Regions from separate parts of the Homo sapiens genome. Here region 1 is linked to region 2. A link means that fine-mapping ties the variant in region 2 to the expression of a gene that starts in the linked region. Tissue or cell type: monocytes after LPS. Region 2 holds a variant in brackets; the other region holds the start of a gene. All regions are shown on one strand. Distances are from middle to middle.

Evidence for each region. PIP is the estimated chance that this variant, and not a neighbour inherited with it, causes the effect.
Region 1: it holds the start of HECW2, and the variant in region 2 is fine-mapped to the expression of HECW2 in monocytes after LPS (Fairfax 2014, PIP 0.95).

The regions. Positions count from the first base shown.
Region 1 is chr2:196,589,498-196,597,587 of GRCh38, forward strand. It overlaps HECW2 (HECT, C2 and WW domain containing E3 ubiquitin protein ligase 2), which reads right to left and starts at 4,057. Exons shown (of 29, transcript NM_001348768.2): 1 at 4,011-4,057. RefSeq lists silencers at 3,286-3,665, 3,746-4,015.
Region 2 is chr2:196,342,846-196,350,953 of GRCh38, forward strand. It overlaps HECW2 (HECT, C2 and WW domain containing E3 ubiquitin protein ligase 2), which reads right to left. Exons shown (of 29, transcript NM_001348768.2): 3 at 812-919. Among named protein-coding and RNA genes, the nearest start is that of HECW2-AS1, 87 kb to the left of the region's middle. The variant CA/C (reference allele first, on the strand shown) is at 4,162.

The DNA of each region.
Region 1 (8,090 bases), 250 kb after region 2:
ACAACAGTTCTCCCTCTCTGCGACCCCTCTGTATGAAAAGCTGAGACCCAAACCAAACACTGGAGACACAAGGGAGTACAGAAAACAAAAGCCCTCCTATTATCCTCATGGCCCTGAGAGCTTGGAAACTAAGAGAATGTGGAATCAAGTCTTCACAACAACACTTGTGTTCTGGAATCTCAGTAAATATCCAAGATCTGGACCAGACACTAGATCTTGAAACTTGCATTCCTACCTCTAAGAGCCATGGTAACCACTAGGTCTGCAAACAGGTTTTGTAGAAACTGCTCTCCCAAATCAAAGGATTTGTCCCAATTAGTGTCAGCTCTAGATATATGGACAGGTGTTAATTCATATTGTGCTTGAAGACAATAATAATATGGGCTTACAGCCACGGCAGATGCTTAGTAACTTAAGAATAAAACTATTTTATTCACTATGTGTGTAAATAGATGACAAGCAATTATCTCATTCTCCTATCTTCCTTCCTCCTATTTCATTTTTTCTTATATATTTTTCAGGTTTAAATTTTTCTGATTTTCTAGCTTTGCATTTAATAAATAAAAGACTGAAATAAGGCAAGACTCAAAATCTGGTGTCGGAAGAGGGGTGATGAAAAAAATTCAGGATTCCTTAATATCTAGGGTGACCAGATAATTATCACCCAAACCAGGACACTTTTACATGTGAAAGGGGGTGCTTTTGATAATTAAGATAAACCAACAGGAGTAAACTGGCACTGTCACAAGCAAAGCAGGGCATCTCGTCACCTTTCTAATCTCTCATTCATATCCTGATACAAAAGGCATCCTGTGTGTAATGAAGCAACCTCTGCCTCTGTTAAATCAATCAAACTTCAAACATAGTCCTCCCTCTTTCAGGCCAGGCCTGGCTTTTGATAACAGAGCTGGAAAGGTTTTCACCCAATGCTGCCATTCCCTATCCAACACACCAAGCAAAACTGGTTCCAGTTTTTCCCAAGAAAGTAGTCAGCAATGCACAAGAATGTGGATCCAGGCCAGGCCCACAGCAAGCCCCAGGCGAGAAGCCTCTGGTTTCTCTTAAAGGAACACTTCACAACAGAGAAAGCCACCTGGTTAGAGGTTACACAGATACCAACCATATAGACTTAACAAGCATTTTGAATGCAAGATCATTTCATTGATGTGTAGGCACATATTAAAACTGGGAAGATCCCAAAAGCCACCTCTCCTGCAAAACACATTCATCTAGGAGAAAACGCCAAAGCATCTGTCCTCAACTACAGGTAACAACCTTGGTTTCTTTGCCTTTGGCTGAAATCAGTGTTGCAAAAGCCTTTTAAAAGAGTAAGAAAATATAGGTTTTTCTCCCAAGATCACATTGCCCAAGTGAAACAGAACCAGTGCTTACTTTTATTTTTTGTCTCCTGTTCAGAGGGGTCAAACATTGCTCATAATCTTCATTAAATTTAGTCCTGTGGCTGGCAAATGTTAATTTACTGGAATATTTTCCTTCACATTCATAAAGAGGGAAAACTAGCTTTGTGATCTGGTTGCAATCTACACAACACATAGATAATCCACAACAGTGGTAGGCGCAGAAAAGCTCCAGCTGGTTTATCTCAAATGTTCAGAATGATTTTGATTTCTTTACCGACACCACAGCCATTCATAAAGATTCATTGCCAAATGTTGCCCAATACCGTGATAGAGGCGATGGTGAAGCGAATGTCTTAGACTGGGAAATCATCATGGTGCCCAAACCTCAGAGTCTGCGGCCAAATGGTGGGGATTTGGAAATCACCTGTCACGGAGATGGTGAAGGAAACTGGATTCAAACTAATGAAGACTAAAGTCTTTCCAGCCAGAAGACGGTTTGAGTCCAAGGGGCCATTTATATACAAGAGCTAAGAAAGGTGCAACTGATTTTCCCCCAGAAGCAGCACGATTATTTTTAAGTTCAAAGACATTTTTGTTAATAAACTGCTTCACACAACCACATCGAAGCCAAAATGTGCCAATGAAATAATCAAAACAAATAGCTCAATTGGGACTTTTTGAATGTTCAACAAAAAGAAAAATTAAAGCTGGTTAGACTGCTGGATAGTAACGTTACAGTGTCTCCTTTAAGAGATCAAAATGTCTTTGCCACCCTCCACCCCACCCTACCCCACCTCTAATAGTGAAGTGGATAATTTCTGAAGAATACAATGACCCTTTATGCCTGGCTTCTCTAGTCTGCTAGGGATGCCATCTGTCTCCCACGCTATATAAACAATCCCCGCAGGAATCTTCTGATGACCAAACAGATTAGCAAACTCCAGATTTTCACGCCATTAATAATATCCCCATCCAGATTAGGCCTTTTATTTTAATAACTCCAAAGATAAAGTCAATAACTGATCTTTCTTTCTTTGTAGATAATGTGTGTGTCATTTTAAAGATAACCTCTTGGAACATACAGCCATCTGTTGGGAAGAGAAAGAAAAAAAGCTCTCTCAAAGCAACAGAAGAAATGAACCCTCGAGGGAATAGGAGAAATAGTAAAAAGAAAATCATATTTATAAGACAAACACATGGAGAGCTCTACTAATTACACTAAAATATTCTTCTTCTAAATGACAAACTATAGAACACTACTCCAGAAAAGACAAGTTTCACACTTTCACAAAGGTATATATATACGAAAACAGTTTGCGTGAGTCTAGGACAGTGAAAGCAGAAATCATAACCCAAAAGCTAAAGGCCCCCGAAGTTTGCATGCTGTCCACCTCTATCTGTAATGATCACAAATGTTTTCCTTCCTGAAGTTTAATATCGATTGAACCCTTGTAACTCTAATTGTGAGCTCTCTGTACTGACTCCAAAGACTTCTAACTCTAAAAGAAATGTGCCTGTAAAGATGTTCTCTAAATTAATAATAATAAACGACGAAAAGCACCCGAGCGCTGCTAATAGTGAAGACAAGGCATGAGAGAGTCAGACCTCTGCAGTCTCGCGTCCTCGGAAACGTCTACGTCTAAATCTGCAGCCCCAGTTTGCTCCAGGCCCCAAGCTCCAGCAGAGGATGTTCACGGCACATTCCCAACCAAAAAGGAAATGAAGCGTCCTCTCCCTCAACTGATGCTCAAATAGACCCCAAAGTCCCAGTTTCCCTGGAGAACCAAACCATCCAACACATCCTGGGCAGCGGAAACCGAAATGGCAAATGAATGACCGCGCCGGGGCGCAAGGGAGGAAAAACAAAGCCACCTCCCGCCGTCCGCTACCTGCGGCGAGGGCCGCGCGCTCACCTGGGCTTTGCGCCCGTCGCCACAAGCTGCGGGTGGGGACCCGGCCGCGGGGCGGGAGGGCGCCCCCAAAGTCGCCCGGACCCGCGGCCCCGGCGCCCTGCGGCCGGTCCGTGCGCGCCGAGGAGAAAGCAGGCGGCCGGGGGCGCCGCCGCGCGTTGCATGCAGCTCACGGCTGCTGCGGCCGCTGCCACGGAGCCGAGAGTCTCTGCGCTGCAGTCCCCGACCCCGAGACCGCGAGAAGCGCCCGGAGAGACGCGGCGCAGGGGCAGAGCGCGCTCGGCGCGCCCCTCAGCGGCTCTTCCCGCCGCCCTCCGCAGCGGGCTGGGTCTCGGCTCGCCTTTGTGCTGGCATCTTCCTAGCTCCCAGCGACACCCAGAGCTCTCGAGGCGGCTCCGCGCCGCCACCCACCCCCGGGTTACGCCACGGCCCCCGCGCGACCCGCCGATTGTGTCGAGTCAGCAGCGGCAGCGGGGACGCGCGAAGCCATGGCTCCCGCCCGCGCTCGGGAGGGCGCCGGGGGTCCTGCGCCTCCGGGAGGTTTGTGGCCGAGCGCGGCGCGGCCCCGAGCGGCCCCGCAGCGCCCGGCTCCCCGCCGCTCGCTCTCCAGGCGCCGACCCGCCTGCGTCGCCACCCTCTCGCCGCTCCCTGCCGCCACCTTCCTCCCGCCCGGGTGCCGGGCGTCCGCTCCAGCCGCGGTGCCCCGGTCCGCGGAGAGCGAAGAGTCCGGCCTCCTCACCTCCAGCCGCGCCGGCGCCCTTCCCGCTAGACGCTTCGGCGGCATCTGCCCGCACCGCCCTGCGGGACGCTGGGCTGGGAGCTGGCGGCACGTCGGGGACCGGTGGAAGGGAGGCGGGGGCAGAGGACAGGAGGGACAGCCAGACCTTGGCCAGCGGGACCTCCCTGAGGAAGGTGCGGAAGAACGGGGCGGGTGCGGCTGGGCGGAGGACGAGTCCCGAGGCTGCGGCGGAGCCTGAGTTGCTCTCCTTCTGCGAAGTCGAAGGACAGGAGGATTCCTAGAGGTGTCGCGGAGGGTGGAGGAGACCCTCTGAGGTCGTGCAGACAACACTGTTCCTCAACCCCACCAGAAAGCTGAATAGGGGAGTGTCATGCCTCGGTTTCCCCAACTGCAAGGGCAAGACGGTAATACTCATGTCGCACACACAGGGTGTGGTCACGATGAAAAAATGGATTATTGAAAGCGTTCCCAGATACTTTGCCTAAAGAGGGCACTAAAATTTAAAATTACTGTATTAATACTTTCGGCTTTCTGTTTACTTCTATAGCATCTTCATCAACCAGTCCCACGTAGGAGAAAAAGTAAAAATGCTAAAGTGTAAATATATTGTGTCCCTCCCCACCCACCCTTGCATCTGTCCAGATTTAGGGAAGATTTATTCAATTTTACAATTTAACTATATCCATATGGAGTAAGTCCCCAAATAATGGATAGCCATTCCTTTGGGACTTTTGAGTGTGTGCTCAATATTATCCATTTCTCCGCCTTTTCTGGTAACAGCAGTTCATTATTCCTATGGGAACTGCCCTTCCCCCTCACCCACAATGAGTCTTTGTGGCTCCAGGGTACTGACACCTCCCACCCTCAACCCCCAGAACTAGCCAGTCATCTTCCGGACCGCAGTGATCGGTTCTGGGTTGGGCATGTTGATCCAGGAACTCGGCCTAGGGCTTTGGATGTATTACTGCAGAAAAATAAGCTCTTTAAACTAGGATAACTAAATTGGAAGGATATAAGCCTACGGTAACAAGGACCAACAGTGCATGCCAATGAAGCCAACTTTGAGGGAAGAAAAGCTGCTGGTGAGAGGGTGATGTCCCACCCTCTCAGGAACCTCAGGAGGTAGATGTGTCTGCAGTGAACTCTACCCTTGAAGCCAATAAATCCTCTCTCTTTTATTTCAAGTCAGTGTCAGCTGTGTTTTGTCACATGTCTCAGAGGAGCCCTGACTTCTTAGTCCCCTGGATCTATCAGCCCAGGCATCACTGTTAGGATCCTCCACAGAATCAAAGAGCCCCACCCCACAAAAGGCCCAATTCCAGTTCTTGCTGGAAGAACAGGGATCCTAGAGGTTTGTTCCCACATGATGTTCTCCTTCACAACTTACTCAAATCCAGCAACCCCACACCTGCAATCCTTAGCTTCTTTGTGTTGATTAACCACTATGTTACATTCTAGTCAAAATGGGCCAGGTGCAGTGGCTCACACCTGTAATCATGCCTGAGGCAGGAGGATCTCTTGAAGCCAGGAGTTTAAGACCAATCTGGGCAACATAGTGAGACCCCACTAACACAGGAACAGAAAACCAAACACTGCGTTTTCTCACTCATAAGTGGGAGCTGAACAATGAGAACACATGAACACAGGGAGGAGAACATCACATCAGGGAGGAGGGGCCTATCGGGGGTTGTGGGGCTAGGGGAGGGATCTCATTAGGAGAAATACCTAATGTAGATGATGGGTTGATGGGTGCAGCAAACCACCATGGCACGTGTATACCTATGTAACAAACCTCCACGTTCTGCACATATATCCCAGAACTTAAAGTATAATACATTAAATAAAGAAAGAAATAAAAATAAAAATAGCCAGGCATGGTGGCCTGAACCTGTAATCGCAGTTACTCTGGAGGCTGAGGCAGGAAGATCAGTTGAGCCCAGGATTTCAAGACTGCAATGAGCTGTGATTGCACCACTGCACTCCAGCTTGAAGACAGAGCAAGACCCTGTCACCTTGTCAAAAAAGAAGAGGAAGAGGAAGAAGAAGGAGGAGGAGGAGGAAAAAGAAAGAAAGAAAAGAAAAACAGAAAAAGAAAGAAAAGAAAAGAGGAGGAAGGGAGGAAGGGAGGAAAGGAGGGAGAAAGAAGAACCCTAAAAATGAATAGAGGCAAAGTGAATCACTATTGCTGCCCTAGGTCTTAAAAAACATTTTTCTCTCACTTTAAAAGCAGCCCCTACTACCTTTAAAACTTTCTACATATCGACCATTAAAACCGAGACTAAGGCATCAAAGAACATTAATAGCAAAGTCATCCTAAAAATCTCAAACTTGCAAAGGTGTGTAAAGATTAGGTAGGTTCTTTCACACTGCACTCCCCGTTCGTCATCACCACCACTCTCCTTCACAAGATCTCTGACCGGGTCTCACTTATCCTCTCCTGGAGCCATTCCCTTAAAGAGAACTCAGTACTTTACAAGCTGGTCAATTCTGCATTGAAACTGGCCTGACATTAGGAAGTGATCCCTTATATTGAGTTGAAATATTTCTTCCACCTGAGAGTACTCCAAGCACTGAAGACAAACTTGTGAACCACTTGAATTGTCTCTTTTCCAAGATCTTTGCATGACCCATAAGTCATGCAGGACACATGGCAATGTGTCCTGACCCTTCATCATCCTAGGTTACTTCCTTTCTACAGATGTGCCAAGGTTTGTGACTGCTCCTTCTAAAGCATATGGCCAAAGCTAAACCCAAAGGCAGATTCCAAGAAACTTATACTCCAGCCCTCTTCCAACAACACAGAAGGAGCCTGAGAGACATGTTCATGTGGTCTTATATTTTTATAAAAGCTTCCAAAGTAAGATATTTTAATCTCAAGCGATTTGCAGTGGACTGAATGTTTGTGCTCCCCCAAATTCATGTGTTGAAATCCTAACCCCTAATGTGATGGTATTAGGAGGTGGGGCCTTTGGGAGGTGATGGAATAAATGCCCTTATAAAAGAAACCCAAGAGAGCTCTCTCACCCTCTTTCTGCCTCTTGAGGATACAAAGAAAAGATGGCAGTCTGCAACTGGAAGAGGGCCTTCCCACCCACATCACAACCACACTGGCACCCTGATCTCATTCTTCTGGCGTCCAGAACTGTGAAAAATAAATTTCTGTTGTTCATAAGCCACCCAGTCTAGGATGCTTTGTTATTGCAGCTTGAATTAAGACAAGACTGCTGTCCCTTTTCATTCTAACTTCCGTGTTGTCCTAATTCCCCTTGTTCCGAAAGAAGTGGAGTGATTGTGGACATTTGTGGGGATCTGGCTAAAGGGAAGTTGAATTGGTTAAGTGGAATACATTTATGTGGTCTGTGGGCATTAAAGTTGTGACAGTGATGTCTATTTTGACTGTGCAAAGACAGTCACTTGGGCCCTTCAGTGTTGTGACACAAAGGTAAAGGGATGGAAATTATACCACCAAGTATTAATAACTGCATACTTCAGCACCCAGCACAGAAGTATATGGGTAACGGGGTAAATGATGTTTGAAATGTATGTACGGATTCAGAACTAGAATATGGAAAACCCTCCCACATCTTATTGTTTATATGTGAAATAAATTTAATAGTGATTTTCCTAAATTTTGAAACAATCCTAAAAATATGTTACTTTCCCAATAATGCATTGTGGACTGAAAAGAAACTCCTCTAAACTATCAGTAATAAAAACAAATTTTAGTCAACTTTACTAGTGAAAACACTGGAATATCTATTAACTCTATAGAACATAATGTCACAAAATCATTTTCATATGAAGAATAAATCAAAGAGTATAAAGCCAAAATACGTAGGAAAGACATATCACAGAGGTATGTCAGGCAGTTAATTAATTTAAAGATCGTGGTATTTTTCTGTATTTGGTGATCTAATACTTGTAAGGTTGTTTTGTTGTTGTTGTTGTTGTTGCTGTTTGGTTTTTTTTTTTTGAGATGGAGTGTCACTGTCGCCTAGGCTGGGGTGCAGTGGCGCGGTCTTGGCTCACTGCAACCTCCGCCTCCCAGGTTCAAGCAGTTCTCCTGCCTTAGCCTCCAGA
Region 2 (8,108 bases):
TAAGCGATATCTTGACTTATTCTTTCTGAAATTCATATGAATAAATATTAATTATAGATATAAAGGGTATATAAAAATGTGTAAAGTATTAAAGTAACCATATATAATTTATATACCATACATTATGTATATGTAAAATATAAAATATACTATATATATTTTTGTATATATACATGTATATGTATGTACATGTAATATTTGCATATATATGTAAATGTGTATGTTTGTGTGTGTGTGTGTGTATATACATATACACACATGCACATATTATATAGTTGTCCCTTGATATCCACGGGGGATTCGTTCCAAGACCCCCATGGGATACCAAAATCCACAGATGCTCAAGTTCCTTACATAAAGTGTCAGAGTATATGCATATAACCTGTGTACATCCTCTCGTATACTTTAAATCATCTCTAGATAACTTATAATACCTAACATAAATGCTATGCAAATAATTGTTATACCATATTGTTTAGGGAATAATAAGAAAAAATGTCTGTACTTGTTCAGTAGAGACAAAATGACATTTTTTTTTCCTGAATATTTTTGATCCACAGTTGGTTGAATCTGTAGGTGTGAAATCCACGGATATGGATGGCTAACTGTATATTTAAACACATACAGTTTTTTCAAAATATGTGAACATTCTTTACTGAGCATTTTCTAAAACAATATATTTTCCATCATGGCATAAATATGTAAATCCAAACCAAAGAATTTCAAAATAACATTCAAAAAGACTCCATAGAATTCTGCATACTTATGCAATGTTCAATAATAAGTTTATATTTCACACTTAGTTACTTACGTTCCATGAAATAGGGCCCAGGCTCAATTCTCCATACAATTTGCCCTTTTTGTGTTCCAGTCACACCCCTGTTCTTAGAATCCCAGAAGTTGGCTGGAGAATTCTCATCTAGAAAAACCAAAGAAACACTTTTCAGATTAATTATAACCTTTCTCTCCGTAGCAGGAAGATTAACATAAGTTCTAAAATAAATGGAAAAAAGATAAATGAGAAAATATAATGCACATTATTCTTAATGACTACCTCCCAGCAGAGTATTACCCGAGTTTCTGTGCTTGCATTTATGTGGGAGAAAGAAGGCTGGGGGGAAAGAAGATGGCATCTCTGGGCTTGGCCAAGGTGGTCAATGTTGCCAAAAGACAAAACTGCAAAGAACAAAGGGTACAACTGCTACAACTTTAGCTATGAGCTGATTTATAACAAAGGGGTTGGGTGTGCTCCCATTTGTAAAACGCTTTTATAAAAAGGAAAGGAAGAACAGACCTAGGAGAATATAACAGAATTCAAGATGGGATGAACAAAAGGGACGTTAAGCTACGAAAGTGAGTCAAGATACAGCACAGCTTTGCCAGGAACAGTGTTTAGGGAACACAAACCAAGTTCATCACATCTGTCAGGACAGTCCTTTGCAAAAGACCAAAGGCATAGACCTTGAGACAAGATAAGAAAAAAAAAAAAAAAAAAAAAAGAGTCTCTATAGGCTTTTGTGTTGAAGAAGAATAGAAAGAACAGTGATCCCCCCAAAAGGCCTGAAAGCAGCATTTTCCAAGCTTTCTGACCTCATGGCACAAAGAAAGTGGTAGTATTTGTATGGCAACACTAGATTCAACAGAGGCCATGATTACAATTTAATATGACAGGCAGGGATGCTCTGGCTTCCTCAGACTCTGCCCCCAGCACCCTGAGGACTGGGGATTCATATTCTATAATTTGCTCACATTACACTAGTTTGAAGCTCTGTCTTAGTGGCCCAGAATAGGAAATGAAACTAGAAAACACGAAAAGGAGACAATTTGGAGTTTTATAGGCACATTAAAAAGTATATAGTGATCCTGGCTCTTAATGCCAGATGTACCTCATTTGTTTCCCCAAATCCCTTTCCAAGGAGGAAGGATTAAGGTTGCACTTTAACTGAGAGTTGGAATAAAGAAGACGGGGTGAAGTATGAGCTACACTAAAAATGGAAAGATGGAGAAAAGGTCCCAAGCCCAAAGGAATAGTCCTGAGGAGAAAAACCTTTCTTCTTTTAAGCATGAAAGAAACAGAAAATGGGTCAAAGCAAGGGGACAGAGGGATTTCTGGTTTTTTTTGTGGTTGCCCTACTAGTTTCATCATATTGAAAAGCCAAAGAACTTTGGGAGGGATGGTCCTTTCATGCATTTGCATTGAGCACATTATAAGTCAAAGGTTCTTTACTGTGAAAGGCCAAGAAGCAGCCACTGTTCTTTATAAGAATGGAAAGACATAACCCATTCATGGCATCACATCCTCTCCTAGATAAACAATGCGAGCAAACAACTCCATTTCATACAGAAATATAACCAAGATGCTGATACTTAGATGGTACTCGGGCAATCACTTAAAAATCACTGGATTTGAAAGGTATCACATGGCTCCTCAGGGCAGACCCTGCTTGCTGCATAACCACTGAGCTTCTACCTTGCCAACTGAACCCCAATTTTGTTCAAGGCAACAATGTGCCCTGTTAAAAATACCTCTCCAAAATCCCATCCAGCTAATGGTGACATGTGGCCTGGTTCTGCCCAGTGAAATGTAAGTGGAAGTCTACTAGGTGGAACCCTATGGAAAACTGTAATTTTCCTAATAAGAAAAGGACAAACTCAACATCCTTTTGCTCTTCCCTGTCCCCTCTTTTTGAAGTAAAGCCACATTGCTAAGATGGCAGAGCAAGAAGCAAGACGCAATCAGGATGATCCATTGAGCCCTGACCCACCTGCCTTCAGGCTTCTTGCTACCTAGGAAAAAAAAATCCCATTTGGTTAAGCCACTGTGGTTGTGTTTCTGTTACCTGCAGCTACACACAATTCTTAACAGATATACCCATCCTAAAAACCACTCAGTGATTCAGACTCATCATTTCTGACTTGATCTGGAATCCTCAAGTTTGGATCACTGCTCCAGGTTAGACAACAAGGGTATTTGCTTCACCTTCTGAAAGATACTTTAATTAGCAGAGCTGCTTGGATGCTGGGAGAAGAACTCTCCTATTTTCACAAATAAATTTACTTATTAGCTACTGGTCACTTGGAAGGCACAGAAGGCTGGACTCTAAAAGAAAGAGAACACACACATAGGAGATAGAGGGTGTCCACCTATTCACAAAGCTTTTTAAAAAAGTAGTTATGTACATGGGAAATTTCCTAAAAACGTTGTTGTAACAGATTCCTTCCTCTTGAGGCCTCAGAAAAGATGAGGCAGTATCAAATCTGGTTTTAAGGAGCAAGTACTAGAATCAAGAAGATAAAAAGCAACTGTAAAAAAGTTGTACCTGTTAATGTGACCTCACTGTAAAAGTGTATGCATTATTTGGTATTACTAAACTTTTTCTCCCCAGGCAATCAATTAAGCCAATAAATTAATCCAAACGCATTTCTGACATGACAATTTTGGGAACATGGACCAGTGAGGGTCAAAAATTAGAATGGATGGGTAGGAATGGGATGAGGATGAGGCCTGAACCCTGGACAGAGGAGATCCTGAGGCTCCTTTACATGGTCCCTAGAAGGGAGCTTGGACAGAGAACTGGTGTCAGCATCTCTTATTCTAAGTGGGTCACTAATATCACTTCCTTTGCTAGTTAGGTTCATCTCTAGGTATAAATATTGTACTACTTGCATACCCTTGCTTAGTCTCAGAAGTAGGAAATAAGGGAGAATAAATAACGTGTGCTTTCTTCCCAGACCCTTTACCATGAAACAAGCCTAGAGTTAAGTGTTCAATCCACCCACCAGCTCCTGTAGGTTGGGATAAACTCTATATCTCTGTAACTCTGCCTTAGTTCCCCTGGTTAGTTCATAGGCCATGTAGAAAATTCCATTTCCAGCCGGGCACAGTGGCTCACACCTGTAATCCTAGCACTTTTGGAGGCTGAGGCAGGTGGATCACGAGGTCAGGAATTCGAGACCAGCCTGGCCAACATGGTGAAACCCTGTGTCTACTGAAAATACAGAAAACAAAAAAATTAGCTGGGCGTGGTGACAGGCGCCTGTAATCCCAGCTACTCGGGAGGCTGAGGCAGGTGAATTGCTTGAACCCGAGAGGTGGAGTTTGCAGTGAGCCGAGATCACGCCACCGTACTCTAGCCTGGGCGACAGAGTGAGACTCCGTCT[CA/C]AAAAAAAAAAAAAAAATTCCATTTCCGTTTGGTGACTTTTTATTTATTTATTTATTTTTTTTGACATGGAGTCTCATTCTGTCACCCAGGCTGGAGTACAGTGGTGTTATCTAAGCTCACTGCAACCTCTGCCTCCTGGGTTCAAGTGATTCTCCTGCCTCAGCCTCCCGAGTAGCTGGGATTACAGGCGCCTGCCACCACGCCCAGCTAATTTTTTTGATTTTTATATTTTCAGTAGAGACGGGGTTTCACCATGTTGGCCAGGCTGGTCTCGAATTCCTGACCTCGTGATCCACCTGCTTTGGCCTCCCAAAATGCTAGGATTACAGGTGTAAGCCACCACGCCTGGCTAATTTTTGTATTTTTCAAAATACAAAATACAAAATAGAGATGAGGTTTCACCATGTTGGCTAGGCTGGTCTCGAACTCCTGACCTTGGGTGATCAGCCTGCCTCAACCTCTGAAACTGCTGGGATTACAGGCATGAGCCACCACACCTGGCCTGGTGAAATCTGTGACATTTAAAGAAATAAAAGTTAGCCCTTTGAAGCCAAATGGGTAAATTGTACCATGAGTATTCAGGTTCACACAGAACACAAATGTTCCATATACGACAAAAAATGGGTCAGAAGCAGAATGAGCTGACCCTGAGCAGAAGCTGGATGGGCCTGTTTTGATTACAGAAAACAAGTTCAAATGCCATGGCCAGTGACCATCCTTTGGCCTTCATAAGGAAGGAAAGCTGCTGCGTTATTCCTTGCCAACCATGGTGCTTGTCAAGTAAGAGACCCTCAAGTTAATATTCTGGTTATTCTAGATGGAAATTTTTCTTTGATGTGATCATATTCTTGATAATTCATTATCCTTGACAGATACAAATACTTCCGCCACTGAGTGGCAGCAACCCTTAATTGCAAATATGAATCCTGAGAAATAAGTTTAGGGACACAGAGTTCACATTACTGTGAAATGGCTACTACAATCTCTACAACTGCCACTGCTCCTACTGTGGCTAGCAGAGCTATGGCCAGCCTTGGCACATCATGCTAAGAAATGCCTAGAATGACTAATTCCTTTGTTCCAAGAAGATCAATTTTAATTAGTCCTTTAGATTAAATTTTTTGTTCACATCTTTGTTTACGTTGCAGTCAATTTTGGTCTAGCCTGAGAATCATTTTAGAGTGGTAGCATTTTCTCTGCTCAGCTCTATTGTTCATGGATTTTTTTGTATAGGCCAACATATTTTTTTTCCTATATTCAATGAACTATTCTTTTTTATCCTCATTTAGTACCTGTATGAGGTGATTTGGTTTTTTCAAAATGCCCCCAACCCAAAGTAAGAACAATAGTGGGCCCAGGTGCAGTGGGTCATGCCTGTCATCCTAACACTTCAGTAGGACAAGATAGGAGGATTGCTTGAGGCCAGAAGTTTGAGACCAGCCTGGGCAACACAACAAGACCCTGTCTCTACAAAAAAAAAATTTTTTTAATTAGCTGGGCATGGTGGCATGCACCTGTAGCCCTAGTTACTCAGAAGGCTGAGACAGGGGTGTCCCTTGAGCCCAGGAGTTTGAGGCTGCAGTGAGCCACGATTGCACCACTGCACTGTAGCCCAGATGACAGAGCAAGACCCTAACTCAAAAAAAAGAACAATAACTGAATATAAAAAGGTATATCAAAGAAACAATTCTAAATCCCCCACATGTGTAATATAGAAGTAATTATAACTTTATTTCTTCCTTTAACTGAGTAAAGGTTCCGACAAATCATAGAATGCCACTGGTCTTTAAAACCAAGTTATACTTGGCCACTTCCCTTTCTCGTTTCTCTTAACAATTCCAAATCTGTCTCTGTCCTCACATCCCCTACCTAATTTCCACCCTCACTGGAACTCTGTGTGAACTCTGTGTCCCTAAACTCATGCATTCTGTGGCATCCAAGAGGACATTAGGCCTGATCTCCCTTGATTTCTCCATCTCCCTACTACTATCTCCTCTGTATCTGTGCCTACTTCTTGCCTTCTTGCCCAGGGTTCTACTCCCCCTTACAGTGGTGCCTGCGGCACCCTCTTCTCCACCAGTCACTTTCTGTCATCTTAATATTTAACCTTTTTCTCTAGAGGGACCTTCCACTCAACCTAGACACCTGTCAGCTTCCATGAGGCATATTCTCCTGCTTTTGTCTTTGTTCTTTGACTATTACCTTCCTTGCCTTCTTTCCCATCCTCATTCCTATTTCCTCTCGTACTAGGATTAAAGTGTCTGTTTTTTTGTTACAAAACAGTCTATATTACAGGAGTATATATTCTAGATTCTTAGGTTACTTCCTAGTGGAAATATAATTACAAAGAAAGGGACATTGGAGATGTTAATACATATATACCCAAATACCTTCTAAATCTAATTTTGTTTGGTAGGCTTTATATTAAGCTTGTCCCTTTGTGTCTCACGACTTCTTCATTCTCTTACAAGTCTAGTTGGCTACACATTTTCTCTAAATAGAAAAGTGAAACGTGTGTGTGTGTGTGTGTGCGCGCGCACACATGCGTACCTTGGCCTCCCAAAGTACTGGGATTACAGATGTGAGCCACCATGCCTGAACATGATACTTATCCAAAGTGATTTCATTTATTATTATTTTAAATTACAACTTAGAGCTACTCCCATTAATCCTGTTACTAATACTGGAATTAGTTATGTTAATTCTGCTTCTTCAAGGGAGAAACAAAGTGTTTGGACCCAGGAGATAAAAGAGTAGAAATAGAAGATTACAACACACAACCCTCTTCTACTAACTATATAATGACACAGAGAAACTTCTCAGAGCTTGTTAATGAGGTGAGAAATAGGCCCCTTTTCCTTCATTAAAACCACATTATTTTTAGGAGGAACACCTAGGGGTCTTAAACAGAATCTCTATATAAGCAGACTTACCAAAATCTCCTGCACATTCACTGTCACAGATCCTCACGGGTCACCATCTCTTTTAGCTACCTGATCCTCCAGGGCAACGAATGCCCAACTTCATGGCTCACAATGAATGAGGGGGTGGGTGGTGCTTCTTTAAAATGCTACTTCCTGCATGGTGGCTCATGCTTGTAATCCCAGCACTTTGGGAGGCCGAGGCAGGCAGATCACTTGAGGTCAGGAGTTTGAGATCAGCCTGGCTAACATGGTGAAACCTCGACTCTAATAAAAATACAAAAAATTAGCTGGGTGTGGAGGCACACACCTGTAATCCCAGCTATACGGGAGGCTGAGGCAGGAGAACTGCTTGAACCTGGGAGGTGGAGGTTGCAGGGAGCTGAGATTGTGCCACTGCACTCCGGCCTGGGCAACAGGGCGAGACTCCGTCTTAAAAAAATAAACAAATAAAATGCTAATTCTTGTGCTGCTCTTCCAGAGACTTTGAATTTAGTAGGTTTGAGTCTGGGCTCAGGAATCTGAATTTTAGCAAGCACCCCAACCAGATGATTCAGATGCAAGTACCATAAAGACCACATTTTGAAAAATTCTGCTTCATGGTTATTTCCAGGGAAGTTGAGCAATCACAGCAATGCTGTGGACCATGCATATGTCTTTGACCATTGTCCCTCTCATTTGTTACCTTGTTCATTCATTCATTCATTTGACAGGTATTTATTGACTGACTACTATGAAGACCATAAGCATCTATTTCCTGCCATAAGCAGCTGACGGGATAAGGGGGGATATTTCCTGCCATAAGGAGCTGACGGGATAAGGCACATAGATATATAATGCAATGCGAAAATTACTATGGTAAAGGTAACCATGTTTTGTTAAAAGAGGAAAAAAGAGGAGGAATGATTAGTCATCCTGGTGTCTGTGCTTGATTCATATGGTTCTGAGCTGTTAGGTTTAAAGTGTCTTTGGAAGAGTTTACGGAGATCTCCTTTGAGAAGTCTACAAATCTAAGCCAGACATT